3 separate regions of the Homo sapiens genome follow, and all the other regions are linked to region 2. Evidence: fine-mapped expression QTL. A gene starts in region 2. Each other region holds a variant in brackets. All regions are shown on one strand. Distances are between the middles of the regions.

Evidence for each region. PIP is the estimated chance that this variant, and not a neighbour inherited with it, causes the effect.
Region 1: its variant is the best candidate, but not a certain one, in a credible set for the expression of MOV10L1 in subcutaneous fat (GTEx, PIP 0.75).
Region 3: its variant is the best candidate, but not a certain one, in a credible set for the expression of MOV10L1 in fibroblasts (GTEx, PIP 0.81).

Annotation. Positions count from the first base shown.
Region 1 is chr22:50,125,154-50,132,178 of GRCh38, reverse strand. It overlaps MOV10L1 (Mov10 like RNA helicase 1), which reads right to left. Exons shown (of 27, transcript NM_018995.3): 11 at 6,610-6,787; 12 at 5,907-5,977; 13 at 3,672-3,763. Among named protein-coding and RNA genes, the nearest start is that of MOV10L1, 39 kb to the right of the region's middle. The variant C/T (reference allele first, on the strand shown) is at 3,340.
Region 2 is chr22:50,086,967-50,093,991 of GRCh38, reverse strand. It overlaps MOV10L1 (Mov10 like RNA helicase 1), which reads right to left and starts at 3,986. Exons shown (of 27, transcript NM_018995.3): 1 at 3,807-3,986; 2 at 1,807-1,991. The coding sequence starts at 3,903.
Region 3 is chr22:50,115,152-50,122,176 of GRCh38, reverse strand. It overlaps MOV10L1 (Mov10 like RNA helicase 1), which reads right to left. Exons shown (of 27, transcript NM_018995.3): 8 at 6,931-7,025; 9 at 4,826-5,020; 10 at 1,561-1,675. Among named protein-coding and RNA genes, the nearest start is that of MOV10L1, 29 kb to the right of the region's middle. The variant T/C (reference allele first, on the strand shown) is at 3,199.

The sequences.
Region 1 (7,025 bases), 38 kb before region 2:
TTCGTATGGTGAAACTTCATCCCCAATGTGATGTTACTGGGTATGAGGAGTTGAGGCCTTTGGCAAGTGATTAGGTCATGAGGGTGGGGCCTCATGAATGGAATTAGTGCCCTTACACAAGGGAGCACAGAGAGCTCTCCCATCCCTTCTGCTGCGTGAGGACACAGGGAAAAGACAGCCGCCTACGAACCAGGAAGCAGTCTCACCAGGACACTGAACCTGCTGGTGCCTTGACCTTGGGCTTCCTGACCTCCAGAGCATGAGAAATACATTTCTGTTGTTTATAAGCCACCCCATCTATGGTGCTATGCTAATGCAGCCTGAGTGTACTAAGACAGACAATAAGACCCTGTAATGTTGGTGTCAAGACAGACAAGTGTACAATGGAACACAACAGAGAGTCTTCAGAAACAGATCAACAAATATTTGGTCAACTGATTTTCTTTTTTTTTTTTTCACAAAGGTACAATAGTAATTCATTGGAGAAAGGGCAGTTTTTTCATCAAATAATGCTTGGACAACTGGATGTTCATTCCACCCTCCAATTTCCATTCATACCCCACAAACAATTTGCAAAGCTTAATGAGATAGATCATAATCCTAAATGTACAGGATAAAGCTGCCAAGTTTCTAAACAGGATAAAATCGTTGAGATCCAAATTAGTTACAGATTTCTGAGATGCATCATTAAAAGATCTGTGAAAGAAAACATTCATAAACTGGACTTCACCAAAATTAATAATTTCTGCATTTCAAAAGGCACTATAAAAACAATGAAAATACAAGCTGTAGTCTGAGGAAATATTTGCACAGACACGTATCTGATAAAGCACTGTACTGAAACTATACAAACATCTCTGCAAACTCAATCATGAGAAAACAATTTTTTAAAATGGGCCCAAAGACTTGAGGAAGGACTTCAACAAGTATTTTGTACAAATGGCAAAAAAGCACATAAAAAGATGTTCAGTGGCCGGGTGTGGTGGCCCACACCTGTAATCCCAGCACTTTGGGAGGCCAAGGTGGGCAGATCACAAGGTCAGGAGATTGAGACCATTCTGGCTAACACAGTGAAACCCCGTCTCACTAAAAATACAAAAAAAAAAAAAAAAAAATTAGCCGGGCGTGGTGGTGGGCACCTGTAGTCCCAGCTACTCGGGAGACTGAGGCAGGAGAATGGTGTGAACCTGGAAGGCAGAGCTTGCAGTGAGCCGAGATCGTGCCACTGCACTCCAGCCTGGGTAACAGAACGAGACTCCGTCTCAAAAAAAAGAAAAAAGAAAAGATGTTCAGCATCATTAGTCATTAGAAAAATACAAATTAAATCCACAACGAGATATCCCTTCACACTACAAGAATCAGCTCTGTTCCAGAGTCAAAGCAGGTCAAGGAGTCCAGGCCTGGACGTCGGCTGCAGTCTCTCTAGCTGCCATGATGGAGGCTGTGTGCCTTCTACCAGCGCTGCTGCTCCCTGTGGTCCCAGCCAACCCTCACACGTCATCATCCAACACAGCTGCCCCTTCCTTCCCATTCCTGGGTCTTCTCATGGCACTCACATGCTGGGGTCTCTCATCTTGCACAGCAAACAAAAAGTACCCCCCTCCTGGTCCTCCTGTATCTCTTTGGTCACCAATTTCTCTCGCTCTCTCTCCATCCTGCCCTCCCTGCTTTCATCGGCAAATGCCTTAAAAAGGAATCAACGACATTTCTCCATTCCCCCGTAGTCCATTCATTCATTCTCAATACATTCCAATCTGGCTGTAGCCCAAATACTGCCGATTTCTCAGACAGACATAAAAAGCACTAATATTAAAAAAAATTTGATAAATTTGACTATATTAAAACTAGCACCTTCTGTTAATAAAAAGACATATATATATAAAATTTATTTATTTATTTATTTTTTGAGACAGAGTCTCGCTCTGTCTCAGGCTGGAGTGCAGTAGTATGATCTCAGCTCACCGCAACCTCCGCCTCCTGGGTTCAAGCAATTCTCCTGCCTCAGCCTCCCAAGTAGCTGGGACTGCAGGCATGTGCCATCATGCCCACTAAGTTTTGTATTTTTAGTAGAGACAGTGTTTCCCCATGTTGGCCAGGCTGGTCTCGAACTCCTGACCTCAAGAGATCCACCTGCCTTGGCCTCCCAAAGTGTTAGGGATTACATCACACCCAGCCTCAAAAGATACTTTTTAAAAAGCTAAAAGATAAGGAAGAAATCTGGAGAAGATATGTACCTAAGAATAGTTTATCATAAGGAATACAGAAAGGACTCCCACAACAATGAAAATTGGATAAATTACTCAATAAAAAAGAGGGCAAAAGACGCAAGCAAGCATTTCATGGAAGAGGAACATTTTACGGCCCACGAACAAGAAGATTCTCAGCCTTGTAAATAAGTCAGAGAAAAGTAAATCAAGACCATCATGAGATGCATTACACACCTACCAGACTGGCACCAATTAGGAAGTCGAACAAAATCAGATTACAGAAAGGGCACCGATCAGCAGGCTGTTATACACATGGATACTGAAAGTCACTGATGCAACCACTTGTAAAGCTGGAAAAACCCCAAACCCAGCAATCCCATCCCTACATACACAGCAGCTCTAGGAACAGCAGCAAACAATCGTAACAGCAAACAATGAAGATGTCCATCAACAGAAAAACAGCGGGTATTCACACAACCGCAAACCAATGAACAGCAGTTACAACAACACGGAGACATCTCAGGAACACAATGTTTAGTGAAAATCTCGACTCCTAGGAACCAAATACAGCAAGTTACTCCTTTTCTAAAGTTCAAAAGAATTAAAACTGAAGAATACATTTTTTGTGCATGACTAGTTAATGGTTTTGTGGAGGAAGAAAAAGCCAGCTGGGTGCCAGGTCACAGCACCCCTCATCCGACAAGAAAACAAATAAAAGTAAGGAGCTGGTAGCTGACGGTGACAGTGAGGCATGAACCAAAGATCCGGTGCACATGAGATCTGGGAAAGAATACACATGCAAATGTATGCACCTTTATATCTCAAAAAATAGTTGATAATAAAGCTAGAAACACGGGGTATGCAAAAATGCTGTAGGAGCCCACTTCCATCCACAAGGCCTATACACGTCAACCACAGGCATGGTGGGGGCTCCTACGTCACTACTTAGATGTCAACAGACATACTCAAGAGAACACTGTCCAATTAAAGATAAAGAGACAAATTAACTGGGCATGGTGCCTCATACCTATACTCCCAAAACTTTGGGAGGCTGACGCAGGAGGATCGCTTGAGCCTAGGAGTTTATGACCAGCCTGGGACCCCATCTCTATTAAAAAAAAAAAAAGATGGC[C/T]GGGCGTGGTGACTCACGCCTGTAATCCCAGCACTTTGGGAGGCCAAGGCAAGCGTATCACAAGGTCAGGAGTTCAAGACCAGACTGGCCAATATGGTGAAACACTGCCTCTACTAAAAATACAAAAATTAGCCAGGCGTGGTGGCAGGCACCTGTAGTCCCAGCTACTTGGGAGGCCGAGGCAGGAGAATCGCTTGAACCTGGGAGGCGGAGGTTGCAGTGAGCCGAGATTGCGCCACTGAAATCCAGCCTGGGCAACAGAATGAGACCCAGTCTCAAAAAAAAAAAAAAAAAAAAAAGACATTTGAAAGAAGACTCACTAAAAGCATTACCTATTATATGTAAATTCCACATCCATAGGTTCAAAGTTATAGGCTTGTTCAAATTCTGGATTAATTTTAAGAGTTACATCTTCTTCATGAATCTAAAAAAGGAACAAACAATATACCTGATTTCTTGAAATAATGTGATATCTTTATCTAGCGACACATCATCAAAAATTCATTCTATAGCTCTGAGCTAAAATTTGATATCTGCAAAATTAGTTGAAAAGGATTAAATCATTACGCCATTCGATTATACAAACAAGAGGAAATGGATCACTACACACTCATACTTACTGAACTTCTATTCACTTGGCTGTAGCCTCTCCTAAGGCTCTGAGAATAGAGAATGTGTGGGAGGTCACTGACTCCATAGGACACAAACAAAACAACCACAAGGGTAGCCAAGTGTTACCTACTGTAAGGAAGCCTCGATAAGAAGGTCTGCTGGGTGCGGTGGCTCACACCTGTAATCCCAGCACTTTGGGAGGCCAAGGTGGGCGGATCACCTTGAGGTCAGGAGTTTGAGACCAGCCTGGCCAACGGGGCGAAACCATCTCCACTAAAAATAGAAAAAGGACCCAGGCGTGGTGCTGGGCACCTGTAATCCCAGCTACTTGGGAGGCTGAGGCAGGAGAATCTCTTGAACCTGGGAAGCGGAGGTTGCAGTGAGCCAAGATCGTACCACTGTACTCCAGGCTGGGTGACAGAGTGAGAATCCATCTCAAAAAAAAAAACAAAAAAAACAGTCATTACAAGACTTATCCTTTTAGTAGAAAAGCCCTCCAGCTAAAGCAAGATCCTGCATGATCAGTTCTGCATATTCTTTCCTAGACAGTATGGGTAGAAAAATAAGAAGGAAAGCCCTGATCTGAAAAGGAGCTCAAGCTCTTCTCCAGGTGACTCAGGCAACACCCTGGTAGGGTGAGTTTCCTGAGGGTCAGGGCTGACACCAGCAGAGAGTCGGGAAGCTACGCCCTGGGATGGCTTCCAGCTCCGGGAGGAAGGGAAGCAACAGTGGTACAGGGCCATGGGATTGTTTCCCCTGAGGATGAGGAAGACAGACCAAGTCCTGACTATACACAGGAGACATGCGTTAGTCTACTTGAGAACAGGTGCAGGTGGCATCCAAGAAAGCCTGAAAAGATGAAAATAATTTTTGGAGCTAAAAAGGATACGGAAGGTCATTTCAGATGCCAGGGTTTGATCAATGGCATGGAGGCCCGGCCATATGGCTCAGGAACCAGGGGTGGAGGCAGGCAGGTGCCTTCCTCCTGAGATCTCTGGCTCTGCTTCTTTGGAGGTTTTGGTATGCAAAGCTTCCTTTCTTGGCACAGCTGGTCTAGGAGGCTAAGATGGTCATTCGGCCATCTTGGGCTCCTCATGTCAACTTGGTCAACAGCAAAGGTGGGTAATGGAGAGCTGGCGAGGTCATGTCACTCGTGTCTCACATCTCAGTCCACAGGCGATGGCCTAATTCATTACAAAATCTCTGAAATCCTGCCAAGATGTTGTCTTCTGGGAAATATCCCACTCTGTGAAATCAGCCACAGCATGGACCCTGCATGAAGGTGTAGCGCAGAGTGACTGTGGCATCAAAGGTCGGAAGCTGCCTCTTCTCCAGATCCTTATCAGGCTCTTCTAGTTCTCTCAGCCCTTCTTCCTTCTGACAGTAAAGGCTCTGGCATTCTCCCTTCAAGTTTTCTACATTAAGTAATGTGTGGCTTCATCTTCTCTGATGCACAGATAGAGCACCTCCCTTCTCATGCAGATCCCAGTATCACTCCCAGTGCTATGACCAGTACATGACCAGTAAAGTCCAGCCCAAGAGTCACAGACCACCCCATGCAGAACCATCTGGAGCACCAGGATCTACTCAAAGCCAAAAAAACCACCTTCACGCAAACATCAGAGCTGCAAACTCATAGGTGTATTTTTCCTTTCAAGGCCTCCACTCTGCGAGCTCTTCTGGAATACATTCAGAATGCCCAAATACAACTCAACGCAAACCTCATGACTTACATATAACCTAAAAGATAAATATGTTTTACATGGTTGAAAATTATAGTATTAAGTTTCCTTTATGCATCAAAAATTATTTAAAGATTCACTGTATCTTGACATTTTCCAAAATAGCCAATGCATATGGGAGCATCTCCCCAAGAGCCGTGGGGAGAACGTTACCTTTCCAACCGGTCAGAAGGGTGTGTCTAACACAAACTCATTAAGAGAGAGTGCTCTCACCTCAGTCACGTAGCTGATGTATTCGATGGCATGTCCATTGTACTCTTGAGTTTTTAAAATCAGTTTATCACCTAGTTAAAAAATATATTACCATGTTTAAAGCTAACACAAAATCACAAATTTCTGTGCTGTCCTATAAAATCCAACACTGAGGAGGTTCAATAAAACGTTACTGGGGTCAGGCTGGGTGCAGTGGCTCATGCCTGTAATCCCAGCACTTTGAGAGGCCGAGGCGGGCGGATCACAAGGTCAGGGGATCGAGACCATCCTGGCTAACACGGCGAAACCTCATCTCTACTAAAAATACAAAAAAAAAAATCAGCCGGGTGTGGTGGCGGGCGCCTGTAGTTCCAGCTACTCGGGAGGCTAAGGCAGGAGAACGGCGTGAACCCGGGAGGCAGAGGTTGCAATGAGCTGAGATTGCGCCACTGCACTCCAGCCTGGGCGACACAGCGAGACTCCACCTCAAAAAACAAACAAACAAACAAACAAAAACATTACTGGGGTCAACTGCTTACAACTAATGAAATACAACAAAGAAACATGCTTGATGTACATCGGTTGCTGATTTTTAGTGAAATTCTAACCCAAAAGAAAGAAAATGCGATAATGTGACTGTCATATTGCCAGTTAAAGAGTATCTTCTCTCAAGTATGGTTTCTCTGCTAGTCCACCCAGGGAAGCATATGAGTAACAAACACACCTGCGTAGAGAGAAGGCCTCCCTTCGGCCAACCCTGGGACCTCCAGAACCAGCAGATCCCCATTCCTTCTTAAGATGATCCCGCTCATGTTATACTCTTTCAGTTCCATTTCTGCATAAATCTCCTCAAGCCACAGCAAAGTCGAAAACTTCTCCTTGTAATTTGACATGTTCAGAAGCTGGAAAACACCCAAATGTTATAAAGTCAGCAACAGCTCAGCAGCACTCTGGAAAGTAGCAGCTCCGGAGCAGGAAAGTTCCAACAGCTCCAGTTCAGCAGATGGCCCCCCAGGTGGGGCGATCCTCGCCGGAGTCTGCAGGTGCCTCAGTAAGTTCCCCGGCCTTCAGCACGAGGGCCATGGGGCTCCAGCACACTCCCTGGCCTTTGGCATGAGGCAGTGGGGCTCCAGCTGGCGG
Region 2 (7,025 bases):
GACCACATCACATGCAGGTGGGATTCTGATACATGATTAAGGAATTTTCCAAATCAGCAGGGAAAAAGTGAGCTACTCAGATGACTGGCTAGCCATTAGGAAAGCAATGTCTGGTTCCTTCTCTCAGTCTGTGCACCCAAATAAATTCCAGGCAGGTCAAATATTTAAATATCAACAAACAGGCCAGGCATGGTGGCTCATGCCTGTAATCCCAACACTTTGGGAGGCCGAGGTGGAAGGACCACTCGAGGCCAGGAGTTTCAGATCAGCCTACGCAACACAGTGAGACGCCATTTCTACAAAAAAATTTTAAAAATTAGTCAGGTATGATGGTGTACACCTGTGGTCCCAGTTACTCAGGAGGCTGAGGTGGAAGAATCGCTTGAGCTCAGGAGTTCCAGGCTGCAGTGAACTATAATCGCACTACTATACTCCAGCCTGGGCGACAGCGCAAAGCTCTGTCTCAAAAATTGAAAAAAAAATTCTAATTGTCAATAAACAATTTTCAGAGTAAAATTTGAATATTAGGAATAAGAAGTGGAATAAGCCTCCCTAAGGCTTCTTACAGCATCCAAAAGCTACATGGAAAAGAGGCACACTTAACTACAAAAAATGAAACTATAAAACACAGTCAAAGATGATCCTGGGGAAAATATTCCTAACACTTTCATATAATAATTTTCCTTAAAAAGCTCTGATTTCCCTAATATATAAGCTTTAACAAAAGAAAAAGCTGAACTCAACAAAAATGTGGACAAAGGACCCAAAAATAATTCATAGAAAAAACATGAGGCCGGGCGCGGTGGCTCACACCTGTAATCCTAGCACTTTGGGAGGCTGAGGTGGGCAGATCACGAGGTCAGGAGCTCCAGACCATCCTGGCTAACACGGTGAAACCCCGTCTCTACTAAAAATACAAAAAAATTAACTGGGTGTGGTGGTGGGTGCCTGTAGTCCCAGCTACTCAGGAGGCTGAGGCAGGAGAATGGCGTGAACCCAGGAGGCGGAGCTTGCAGTGAGCTGAGATTGCGTCACTGCACTCCAGCCTGGGCGACAGAGACTCCGTCTCAGAAAAAAACAAAAACAAAAACAAAAAGAAAAAGAAAAGTTACCATACTTAAGGCTTAAGTGCAAATTAAGTGCAGTCTCTCATTCTGCTCCTAAGAGTATAAATTTGTATATTATTGATGTTACTTTGGTGATAACCATTAAATTGTTGAAAAAGCAAGAAAATAATGGATATATAATTGCTATGTTCTCCACAGCATAAATTCATAGGCAAACTTTACTTTCTAAAGTATACATGTCTATGTTGTTTGAATGATTTACAAAGACTGCTGTTTGTTTATTTATTGAGACAGGGTCTTGCTCTGTCATCCAGGCTGGAGTGTGGTAGTGCAATCATAACTCATTGCAGCCTTGACCCTCTGGGCTCAAGCGATCCTCCCGCCTCAGCCTCCCATGTAGCTGGGACTACAGGTATGTGCCACGACACCAGGCTAACTTTTGTGGGTTTTTTTTTTGTAGACACGAGGTTTCACCATGCTGCCCAGGCTGGTCTCTTAACACCTGAGCTCAAGTGATCTGCCTGTCTCAGCCTTCCAAAGTGCTGGGATTACAGGCGTGAGCCACTGTACCCAGTCTATTTTTTAAAACATAAATCATAAAGAGCAAAAGCATCCCCTTGAAGGTACATTCCACTCTTTCTCCCTTGGCCGGGTCATGTCTGATAGATTAAACACAAGGAAAAACAACACAAAGTCCCGTGGCGAAGAAAAACTGTTCCCAAATGAACTCAAACCTTACCCTGATTGCTTTCAGTCCATTGGACACTTTATTTTCTTCCACAACTGCAATCACTTCCTGTCCAACATTCAGAAGCACTCTGCTAGTCACAGCATCACTGGAGAAGTAGATCATATCATCAATCATGCCATAATCGCTGCAGTACCTTGTCACGACACCCCGTACAGTTTTCAGCTTAGTGTCACCTGAGGTAGGTAAACAAAGAAGTTATCTTGGCCATAAAAGCAAGCGTACGCTACAGTGAACCCCACCAGAGAAAGGCAGAGTGCAAAAGCCTCCTTTTTTTGCAGTTCGGAGGCACTGACTCCGAACGGGCTGACTTGAGACAGAGAGAATCCCATCAGAGAGTGCTGTGTCTGGAACGTGGGGTTTGGAGGCAGACAGCCCAGTTTCCTCAGAAGGGCACAGGTAGTGGTTGTGGAGGTGACAGCCCTGACTCCACAACAGACTGCATGGGGTTGACTCCTAGCTCTTCTACTGCCATTGGTGTAACCCTGGACTAGGTCCTTAACTACTCTGGGCCTGTTGCCATCTGTAAGATGGAGACTAATCGTCACTACCCAAGAGAGCTGCTGAAGGGTTAAGTGGCAGAACACACGTGCATGTATGGACCTCTGCGTGGCTGACACGCGTTAAGTGCTATGTAAATGGCCACTTATATCAGCATCTGGGAGTCATTAGCATGCACGGTTTTATTAGTACTATCGATTATCTTTTTATTACCATCAGCAGCAGCCTCGGAAGACTGGAGAATCTCAACAAACACGGTGCTGGAAAAGGTTCGGGGCTGGGCAGACAAGTCTGGCCCAGGAGCAGCGCACGCCCTCAGCCGTCTGGCCACTGCTGCAGCCACGGTCCTGAGTCCTGAACGTGCCTTTACTGCAGCTTCCCAGCCACGGGAGGAACCTGGGGCGACGGTTACAGTACAGGCATAGGATCTGAGCGCTGCCAAGAGCTGGAGCTCCAGCTACCGCTGAGCGCGTGTTCTACCGAAGAGATCCACGGAGCAAGTGCTCCAGGTAACACAGCCGGCCCCCCGGGCATCGGCCCTCGTGGATCCAGAGGCCCTGAACACGCTGCCTGCAGCAGGAAGCTCCCCTCCTGAAGCCTGTTCCTGTCTTTTCTCACAGAAGGCAATTAGGGACCCACTACTGTGGATTCCATTCCCACATAAGGAAACATCGGGAGAAGCCATCAGAACCTCGGGAGAGGTCGGGCGTGGTGGCTCAAGCCTGTAATCCCAGCACTTTGGGAGGCCAAGGTGGGTGGGTCACCTGAGATCAGGAGTTCGAGACCAGCCTGACCAACATGGCGAACCCCCCCTCGACTAAAAATACAAAAATTAGCCGGGCGTGGTGGCGGGTGCCTATAATCCCCGCTGCTCGGGAGGCTGAGGCAGGAGAATCACTTGAACCCAGAAGGCGGAGGTTGCGGTGAGCCGAGATTGCGCCACTGCACTCCAGCCTGGGCAACAAGAGCGAAACTCCGTCTCACACACACACACACACAAACACCTCAGGAGAAAGGAACGGTGAGGGCATCCGGGCGCATCCCGGGCTTTAGAAAGATGGGCTTGAAAACCAGACAAGGAAATGGCACGCCTTGGCGCAGCGCGTTCTGAAAGGACAGGCCAAGTCTGCGGGGCCGCGTTTTTCGGGGCTTTCTAGACACACCACCGCCAATGACGCTGCGGACAGGGAGGAACGACATGGAGAGACGACTTGGCAGCTGCTCGGCGTAAACACACAAAGTGAGGGCGGGAAGAGGGGCTGGTGTCACCGGAGAGACCTCACAGAGGACGGGCGCCCAGAGCGGCGGGATGCTGTGGGGTCGGAAGCCTCCTGAGGCGAACGGGGATCCCCGCCAGCGGAGATGAGGAAAGGCCGGGCCCAGCGTTGCCTGCCGGCCCGCACTGCACTCAAAGACCTATGGGCGCGGCTCCCTCGTGGCCGACACGCGAGGGCCCGGGACCCGCCTCCCAGCCGCCTCCCGCGAGCCACCTTCCGCGAGCTCGGGCTCCAGCTGCCCGGCTTCCTCCCTAGGGGTGTCCGCCGTCCTCCAGAAGAAGGCCACCAGCTTGGCTGCGAGGCTCAGCATGGCCCTCGCCCGGCCTAGGCTGCCGTCACCGCCGCTGCCGCCGCCCGCACGCGCCCGCGCCGCTCCCGCCGCCCGCCACCAATGGGGTCGCCGCGCCTGGGCATGCGCCTTGGGGTCGTTGCGCGAGCCGGGACCCGTAGCGGTCAGAGGTCGGCGGTTGGCGCCTGGCAGCTCCTGACAAGGCGAGGTGCCTGGTGGGAGTGACGTCATGCCGAGCGCGCAAGGCGGTGTGACCGCCGGGTGGGCGGGGCTTCGAGCGGGCGGGCGGGGCCTCGCGTGGGTGGGCGGAGCTTCGAGCGGGTCCGCCTTCTTGCCGCCCACACATTAGGGAAAAGTGCGCTTTCACCACCCAGAGTGATGTTAGGAGTCGTTTTTTGTTGGTGTTTTTTATCAAGTTGAGGAAGTTCCCTCTATTCCTGTTTTTCCAAGAGTTCTTATGAGTGGGTGTGAAATTTTCTGCAACGCTTTTCTGCATGTATTCAAATGATCCTGTAGCTTTTTATTTCAGCCCATAGGGAATTACATTGTTTGGCTCTCCTTGGAAAACTCACTTGGTCACGATTCGTTATCCTTTTGGTGTATTGCCTGACTCAGCTTGGTAACGCTTTGTCCAAGGTTGGGGACGGTGCTGGTGAAGCAGATTGCTCTGTGGCCGACCTCCCGTTTTCTGTGTCTGTCTGGTTTGGGGTCGGTTTAAGCCGGGCCTGCAGTGACCTGGGAGTAGGATGGGGTAACTTATTCCCTAAAAATTGTGGTAGTATTCGCTGGGGAACCCATTTGGGCTTCGAGATTTCTTTGTGGGAAGGTTTTTAATGAGAAATTCACTTCTGCATCAGCTAGAGGGCTATTCAAGTTATCAAGGTAATATTGAATAAACTTTGGTAATTCTTTTAAGGAATTTGTCCATTTCATCCAATTATTAGATGTCAGATTATTGGCATAAAGTTGTTCAGCATATTTCCTTATTATCCTTTTAACGTCTGTATGGTCCATAATGATGAGCCATCTTTCATTCTTGACATAGGTAATTTATCTCATCCCTCTCATTTTCCTTGATCAGTCTATATTTATCAATTTTATTGAGTTTTTAAAAAAAATCATCCCTTGATTTCATTGATTTTTCTCTATTTTAAAAATATCTTTACACTTTGCGAGGCCAAGGTGAGCAGATCACTTGAGGTCAGGAGTTCGAGACCAGCCTGGTCAACCTGCCAAAATCCTGTCTCTACAAAAAAATACAAAAAAAATTAGCCAGGCATGGTGGCGCATGCCTGTAATCCCAACTACTTGGGAGGCTGAAGCAGAAGAATCACTTGAACCCAGGAGGTGGAGGTTGCAGTGAGCTGAGATCACACCACTACACTCCAGCCTGGGAGACAGAGCAAGACTCTGCCTCAAAACAAAAACAAAAACAAAATACGTATATATATCTTTACTATTCCAGTGGTTTCTGTTTTTTATTATTTCTTTTTTTTTTTTTTTGAGATGGAGTCCTGCTCCGTCGCCCAGGCTGGAATGCAGTGGCATGATCTTAGCTCACTGTAGCCTCCACCTCCCGGGTTCAAGTGATTCTCCTGCCTCAGCCTCCAGAGCAGCTGGGATTACAGGCGTGCGCCACCACGCTGGCTTTTTTTTTTTTTTTTTTTTTTTTTTTTTTTTGTATTTTTAGTAGCGACAAGGTTTTACCATGTTGGTCAGGCTGGTCTCGAACTTCTGACCCGCAGGTGATCCACCCGCCTTGGCCTCCCGAGTGCTGGGATTACAGGTGTGAGCCACTGCGCCCAGCCCCGACTTATTTTTGATTGACATAGCTTTATTTTCCTAGGTCAGATCTGTCAGTCTGATGACAGCCTGGACCTTGCCTGTCCATGGATGCAGAGTGTACTGATAGTTCTTGCTGTGGGAAGGGAGAGAGTGGCGCACTCCCTAGCATTTCAAATCCCCGCTAAGCCTGTGTCTTGGGCTGGGTGCTGGAACACATACAGGAGCCAGCAGGGTCCCAGGGACCTACTGGTTGGTGGGAGATTAGCTTGGAAACAAGAGCGAGCTGCATGAGGGCTGGTGGCTCATGGGCTCCCTGCCAGGGCAGCTCGCAGCGGGTGCTGTGCCTGCAGGGCTGCCCCTCAGCTCCCCAGCTCGGGCCACTCCCTGGGATTCTGGACTCAGTAGACCCGGCAGATGCCCACAGACATCTCGGCCTCATCATGTCCAGAATGGAACTCCAGATCCTCGCTCCACACCTGCTCCACCCTGGTCTTCTCATCTCTGTCCTCACTGCTCAGACAGAACTCAGCAACGTCGCCCTGACAGCAGATTGCGTCCGCTCTTCAAACCCTGTTCAGAGCCCAGTCCCTCCTCACCACTTGCCCACTGCCACCTCAATGCCAGGCAGCACCTGCTCCTCCCACCCCCCAGCCTGCTCTCCACCCAGTGAGTGACCGGATGCTGCTCTGCCCAGACCCCTCCAGCAGGTCTGTCTCAGAGTTGAAGCAGAGTCGTCTCCATACCCACAGGTGCTGGCACCTGGCTGTCCTACCTGTATCCCCCTTGCATGGTCCTCGCCTGCCTTCCCCAACCTGTGGCCTTTGCTTCAACTCTGCCAGCCTCCCCTCCCTGCCTCCTTCTCACTGAGGCCTGCCCTGGCCCCTGCAAACAGCAGCCCCTCATTTCTCTCCCCTGACTTCTTTTCCCTCATAGAGGAAATCATGTGTGTCACTGGATGCATTAGTCTGTTCTCACGCTGCTATAAGGACATACCCAAGACTGGGTAATTTTAGAGTCAAGTCCTTATAAAGGAAAGAGCTTTAATTGACTCACAGTTCCACAGGGCTGAGGAGGCCTCAGGAAACTTACAATCATGGTGGAAGGGGAAGCAAACATGTCCTTCTTCACAAGGTGGCAGGAAGGAGAAGTCTTGAGCAAAAGCGGGGAAAGCCCCTTATAAAAGACCATCAGATCTCATAAGACCTCACTCATTGTCAGGAGAACAGCAGCATGGGGGTAACCACCCCCATGATTCAATTACCTCCCACCGGGCCCCTTCCACGACATGTAGGAATTATGGGAATTACAATTCAAGATGAGATTTGAGTGGGGACACAGCCAAACCATATCACTGTATA
Region 3 (7,025 bases), 28 kb before region 2:
CTGGAGGATTCAATATTGTTAAAATGTCCATACTAACCAACGCAATCTACAGATTCAATGCAATTCCCATCAAAATTCCAATGACAGGCCGGGTGCAGTGGCTCACACCTGTAATCCCAAGCACTTTGGGAGGCTGAGGCGGGAGGAATACTTGAGGCCAGGAGTTTGAGACCAGCCTGGGCAATGTAGTGAGACCTCGTCTCTGGGGAAAAAAAATTCCAATGCTATATTTTGCAGAAATAGAAAAATGCATCTTAAAATTCGTATAAAAGATCTTGAAAAGCAAAATAAATTCTGCCAAAGAACAACAAAGCTGGAGGACTCAAATTTCCTGATTTCAAAACTTACTACAAAGCTGCAGCATCAAAACATCAAGTCGGTGGCCTGTGGAAGGAACTGAGGAGCACCCTCCAAGCCCAGCAGACCTGGGTCCCCAGGGAGGAGCTGAGGAGCACCTCTCCATCCTAGCAGACCCAGGTCCAGCTTTTTCTGCCACCTCGATGAACCATTCAGGCATTTGCCTACAAACTCAAAGTGACTGGGGGACAGAGGACTGCGCTCGCGACTCATGGCAACCTCCCTGCCCAGGATCTGTGAGTAAAACACATCTGAACTTGTTTCTATCACGGCAGTGGATTGAATTTGCACCTTCCATCCTAAGAACCCAGCACTGCCCAGGCCGGGTTTTCCCTGGCATTGGGGAACATAAGTTTGGGCTCCCAGTGCCAGATGATCAGGCAGGCATAACCTGGATACAGGTCAGACGAGAGCCACTGGGGCGTCTGCCAGAATAAGTTTCCTGCGTGAGGAACCCCGGTCATGGGGCATCAGCTGTCCTCCTGGTAAAACAAGGACATTTTTTTAAACAAGGAGGTGTATTTGGAAAGGATCCCCTGAAGGGCGCATGGTGAACACCTAGGTCCCATTCCCTTCATTCTCCTTAGGACAGGGCTGCCAGCTGCTCTGGCACTGGAACTCCAGTTTAGCTGGGGACTCTCAGAACACCTCAAACCCCTACAGAAAAAAACCCTCCTGGACAAAGGGCAATGTTCTCCCCTCAAACTGCCAAATTTATAGACTTTTCTTCCTTCTTGAACTTTTCTTCTCCACCTACCCCACTCAGAACGTGCTCCTCTGTCTCCCATGTGGGTGGGGACCTGGGCTCTCCTCCCCTGGACCCTTGCCCTGCTGGCTCTGTCAGGATGATGGTAAAAGGCTAGAACACTTCTTGCTCATAACAAAGGCCTCCTAGTCTAGCGAGAGAGGCCAGGCTGATGGCAGAGGTATCCCTCAGTTCTTCTGCTCCAGACCCCAAAGGCCCTGTGCGTGACCCCCAGTGAGGCTGTGGGATGCCAGCCCCTGGTGTACAGCAGGTCTGGCAGCGTGAGTGCTATGGTGCCTCATCCCTCACGGCCAGGCAGTGACCCTCGTTATCCCAGCTACCTGTGAAGAAAACAAGCCAGATGAAGGTCTGAACCTGAGAAGGAACCTCCTGGCTTTGTCAGAAAACAAGAGCATTAGAAGATGCCAACACCCCACAGGCCATGAGACACTTCCTACCTCTGCAAGTAATGGCTGGAAAGTCAGGATGTCAATTTTTTGTTCCACACATTTTCTAAGTCTATCTGGGATTGGATATTGGGGAAGAAAACTTGGAAGTTGTCGTCTTGAGTTCCTTAAAAAATTAAGTTCACAAGTTAAAAATAAGTCTTTATCACCAGGTATCACTAGACATTCTTACCTAAACATCCTTTCCTATTTTAGGAAGACCAAAGTCCATCCATTTCCTGAGAAGAACTGATATATGAATAGCTGGTCTAAGGCAGTGGTTTGAAGCTTTCGTTTTAGCTCTGGGATCCTTTCCTCAAACAGTTCCCACAAGTGCTCTACTATTTGTAAACAGGTAAGTGTAGCTGCACAGGCTGTGGGAAAACAGGGCTGGAACCCCCAGAATCTCCTGGAACCAGGAGTTTGGAAACAGCTGTTTTTAACATTCTATGAGCTAAGCTCTTCCTACTATATTTGACATCAGGACTCCACCTGGGCCTATCCCTGCAAAGCACACATTAGGAAAAGGCTGCTCTGTCTGGGTCCTGCCTTCGATTTGTTTTTGTTTTGTTTCCCAGCCTGTGGTTTCTCTGGGGAAATTCAGTTTGTTCAGGATGAAGAACATCGCTGCTCTGGAGCCAAGCCCAATGCGGCAACAGAAACAATGGGAAAGGGACAGACAGGAGAGGAGAAGCCAGGAGAGAACAGGGAAACGAAAAGTCAGAGTGAGGTCGATAAAACTCAACTCAGCAAATAAGGATGTTGGTTGGACCTTTATCCCTCATTCCCTCCCAGCTCTCCATTTCAGTGCAGTCTCACCCAAGAGAGAAGCCCACATTGCTCTCCGTATTCCATTCACTGTCATCTCAATTTGGGTTCCACTGGCTCAGCCCTCAACAGGAGAAACGGGGTGAAGACATTCCCCATGGTTTGTGCTGAGGGTTATGTCAGCGCTCACATGCGAGGTGTATTTGGAAAGCATTGATTACTAACACGAACAAGGTAAAGGGAAACCAGGATGATCACTACAGGCTTAGGTCAACAGCCTGAACAGCTAACAGAACCATGTGGCCTCAACAGACACGCTGGATTAACAAAATGTGGTTCCTACCATGATGGGTGGCTAGAAACTTGGCTGGGAGTGTGCTGGCCTACAAAGCCCCCCAGAACAGATCTGCTAAGTGAACACTCTGCTCTAGCTAAGAGCCAAAGTTGCCTGGCACTGGGGGTCCTAGCAGGAAGTGCAGGACCTGTGACAGGCGGCCACGGATGGACAGCTCTGGAAGCAGGCACCCGCCAATGCCCGCGTGGGCAGGTCCAGACACCTGGTGCTCCAGGTGTGCTCGAGCCAACCCGGGTCAGGCACTCTGGGTCACTAACCTGAGTGGCAGGAAACTGATGTCCTTGTTTTAGATACGCTCCCACACAATATGTTAATATTCACGGGGAAGTAACTGACCAGGGGGTTAAAATCCTTGTGGCTGTTGCTCTGTGTATTTCACTCTTTCTGTTAAGCCAAATGATAACTAGAAAGCTGCTTGGTGTGTCACTAGATGAGAACCAGGGATCCTCCAAGGCTCCTGTCATTAAAACTCGATCCTCGGGGACTCTGCTCTGCCTGGCAGCCGAGGGACTTTCCTGCTCCTTTTC[T/C]GGGTTACATCCCTACAGCCCCTTGATGTTGAAACTGTGCCCCAAAGAGTTAAAGAAACCGATGACTAACAGAAATTCTTGAGCCTGCAGGATGGGTGATAAGAAACAACTCCAGCGCTGAGTCTCCCCCTGCTTATGACATCAAAGGACTGGCTGAGATCAGCTGGAACCAAGATGGACAACTGGAGTTTGTGCAGAGCTTACTGACGTCACAGCCTGGATTCCCACCGTGTTTCATGCGAACTCCCTCCGAACTGGCACATGTGACCCATGAGGTAGCATGAAGGGGTAACTATGCACACCCAAGGCCTTTCCAGACCTCCCTTTTCCTTCCACCAACCACCTATTAATCCCAGATTCTACCCACTAAACGTTTTCTGACAAAATTACTGCCTTAAAGCCAGCACAGAGAGACACATTTGAGCTTGACTCCTGTCTCCTTGGGGGTTGGTTTTCAATACAAAGCTTTTCTTTTCTCAGAAACCCACTGTCGTAGCAATGGCCCCTAGTGCATCAGGCAGTGAGCCCCTTTTTCTCAATAATAATATGCCCAGGGATCATGACTGCTTATTCGCTTACTGAGTGATTGCTTTGTGCCAGAAAACTGCACATTTTACATGTCTGACCTCATTCAATCTTCAAACCACACGAGGCAGGGACTATCATTTTACCAATGAGAACAAGGCTCAGAGTGGTTAAGAAACTTGCCCAAGGTCACACAGCTTCTTGGTGGTGGTGCTGTGATTCAAACAATGGTCTAACCTTAAAAGGTAAACAACCACATGATATTCTTCCCTGGTAACAGGTTTTCCCTTTAGTCTGCAACTAAGTAGAAGTCCATAATCCCTCATCTTGAACTGTAACTGGGGCAACACGTGATTTGAAATTCAGAATCTTTCAGTATTAGAAAAGTGACCCACCTCACCCTCAGGGAGGTCTGGGGTAGTAGCAGAGCTCAAACCCATCAGTTATTATAGCCGATGGAGGAAAAGTCACATCACACGGGACTAAGTCATTACACTTTAAAAAGCCTGCTATTCAGGGCTTTTTCGTTTTATAACTACAGAAGAGAACACGTGGATGTGAAGTGCTTTCCTGAGACTACCCTCCAGTTAAAATCTGGGTGGTCCCTATGTTCCCCAGCCACAAGTCCCAGATCACACACTGCTTCTCCTAACTCCATTCTTAAGTGGTACCACATCTTCAAACAGGCTTCAGGTGACCCCACAATCCTGTTGCCCCCAGTGCGAATGACACGGGGATGCCGTGCACTACACACCATGGCCTCGTCAGGACGGGAGAGGTGGCAGGAGCTGGGTGAGGCCAGCCTGCTCTGAGAGCCACCTTGGAACTGCCAGAGCAGAGTGGGGCTTGGGGGAGTGAAGGCCGTCTTCCTTGGGCTTCACGCTGCTGCTGGGCAGCTGCAGAGACAGAACTTGACCTTCAGAGCTCCGTGGAAATGCACTCCATCCCCCAAATACAATCATGGAAAGAGGCTTGAACCCCAGCTTCATCCCCTTTATACCTCCCCAGCCAGGTGGTAGCCACCGCTTGCCAGTGCACGTCCGCTTTTCCTTCACAGATAAAACTGCCAGACCAAGAGCCACACTCATTTCAGTTATGGTACCTTTTCTGTGCGGTCACAACAACTGTAGTTTTTGCGGATGTTAACGCTTGTGAACTTTTAAGCTTTTTCCAAGAAAATGGTTCGCGCGCAGCAATTAGTGACTCCTCCCCACTGATAACATTTACTTCAAGGTATCGCCCAATTAGGAAATCGGAAAAACAGAGCAAAAGGAGCTCCTTGCAGCGGCCAGGATTTCTTGAAAAAAACAAAATGAAATTTAGTTTTAGTCATAAATAAGATAGGCAGTCAACACAATTTTCCTTTGTACATACAAGAAAAGTGACAGAGTTAAGACTCATCTTTAGTCTTCAATAATTCTTTTTACAGAGAAAAAAGAGATCTTCTAAAATAAGCTATGTAATTAATATTTTCTCAAGATAAAATTAAGCACCTACAGGCCCGGTGCGGTGGCTCAGGCCTGTAATCCCAGCACTTTGGAAGACTGAGGCGGGCAGATCGCTTGAGCCCAGGAGTTTGAGACCAGCCTGGGCAATATAGGATGAACCTGTCTCTGCAAAAAATACACAAATTAGCCGGACATGGAGGCGTGTGCCTGTGGTTCCAGCTACTCGGGAGGCTGAGGTGGGAGCCTAGGGAGGTGGAGGCTGCAGTGAGCTGTGATCATGCCTCTGCACTCCAGCCTGGGCAACAGAGTGAGACCCTGTCTCAAAAAAAAAAAAAAAAAAAAAAAGTAAGCATCTACAATAGTCTTTTTTGTAATCCTAACACATATAAGAGTAGGAAAAAATTTTGATATTCCCAATTTTAAGTCAGAATTTTATGACATGACCAAAAATAGGTACTATATCTAATGTGCTTTCTGCCCAGTCCTCGCTGTGGCTCTAACTGGGGCTACATCATCCACACTACACTTTGTGCCCCCCTATGGCTTTTTTTTTTTTTTTGAGACGGAGTCTCGCTCTGTCACCCAGCCTGGAGTGCGGTGGCGTGATCTCGGCTCACTGCAAGCTCCGCCTCCCAGGTTCACGCCATTCTCCTGCCTCAGCCTCCTGAGTAGCTGGGACTACAGGTGCCCGCCACCACGCCCAGCTAATTTTTTTTATTTTTAGTAGAGACAGGGTTTCACTGTGTTAGCACCTATGGCTTTTTTGAAAAAACCTGTTTCTATGTTGTCATAATGTCAAAAAAAAAAAAAAAGCATTGAAGCTGGCTGCACCTCACACAGCTGACTGTGCACTTGCCACCCACAGCTTGATGTTGATGAGCTGTGATTTAATCAGATTTAAGTTTTTCAAAAAATTTAGAATTAGACACCCAGCTGGAAGGCTATCACGCACTGTCGGGCAGCTTAGGCAGGGATGCAGGGACACAGGGAGCTGGAGGACAGGGCCTGTTTGGTCAGCTGATGTAACCAACCACACCAGGGAGAGCGAAGGGCTCAAGGTTGGCGTCTGGCATCCCAGCTAGGAAGGGGCCCTTCCTGCCCCTCCCTCAGCACACTGTGCTGTCCGTGCCTTGGCCAAATGCCCAGGTGACGGGATGGAGATGACCGAGGCCCCAGGGCTTGGCTATGCGGAACACGGGCAAGGCAGTGAAGAGGAGCCAACGTGATGTCTCAGAACAGCAGAAGCACAGGGAGCTCAGGCCTCAGAGAGCCTCAGAGACACCCTGTTTTCTTTGTGAGGGTGAGAGGCCATCTGGTGAGGACCCTCATGAGTCGTGCGAAGTTACAGGATCCATTGCCCCAGGTGGGTCACACTTGGTACCCAGCTTCTAGACCAATGCTTTTTCTTAGGATTCTGTCACATCAAAAACGTCAGGTGTACCTTTTTGTTTTTTTGAGACAGAGTCTTGCTCCGTCTCAGGCTGGAGTGCAGTCGTGCGATCTTGGCTCACTGCACCCTCCGTCACCTGGATTTAAGCGATTCTACTGCCTCAGCCTCCTGAGTAGCTAGGACTACAGGGGCCCAAGTAATTTTTGTATTTTTAGTAGAGGCGGGGTTTCGCCATGGTGGCCAGGCTGGTTTCGAACTCCTGGTCTCAGGTGATCCACCCGCCACAAAGGAGTACCTTTTATAACACCCAACCTAGAAGTATCAGAGAAACTTAAAAACGCGGCTCTCCCCAGACCTCCAGGCCCTTACTTTCCGTCACAGATGACCACAATGAAGGTTTTTCCCCCTGGAGGGACAAGCCCCCCAGGCTCAGGCTCTGTCATCTGCTTCCTTGATAGAATGTT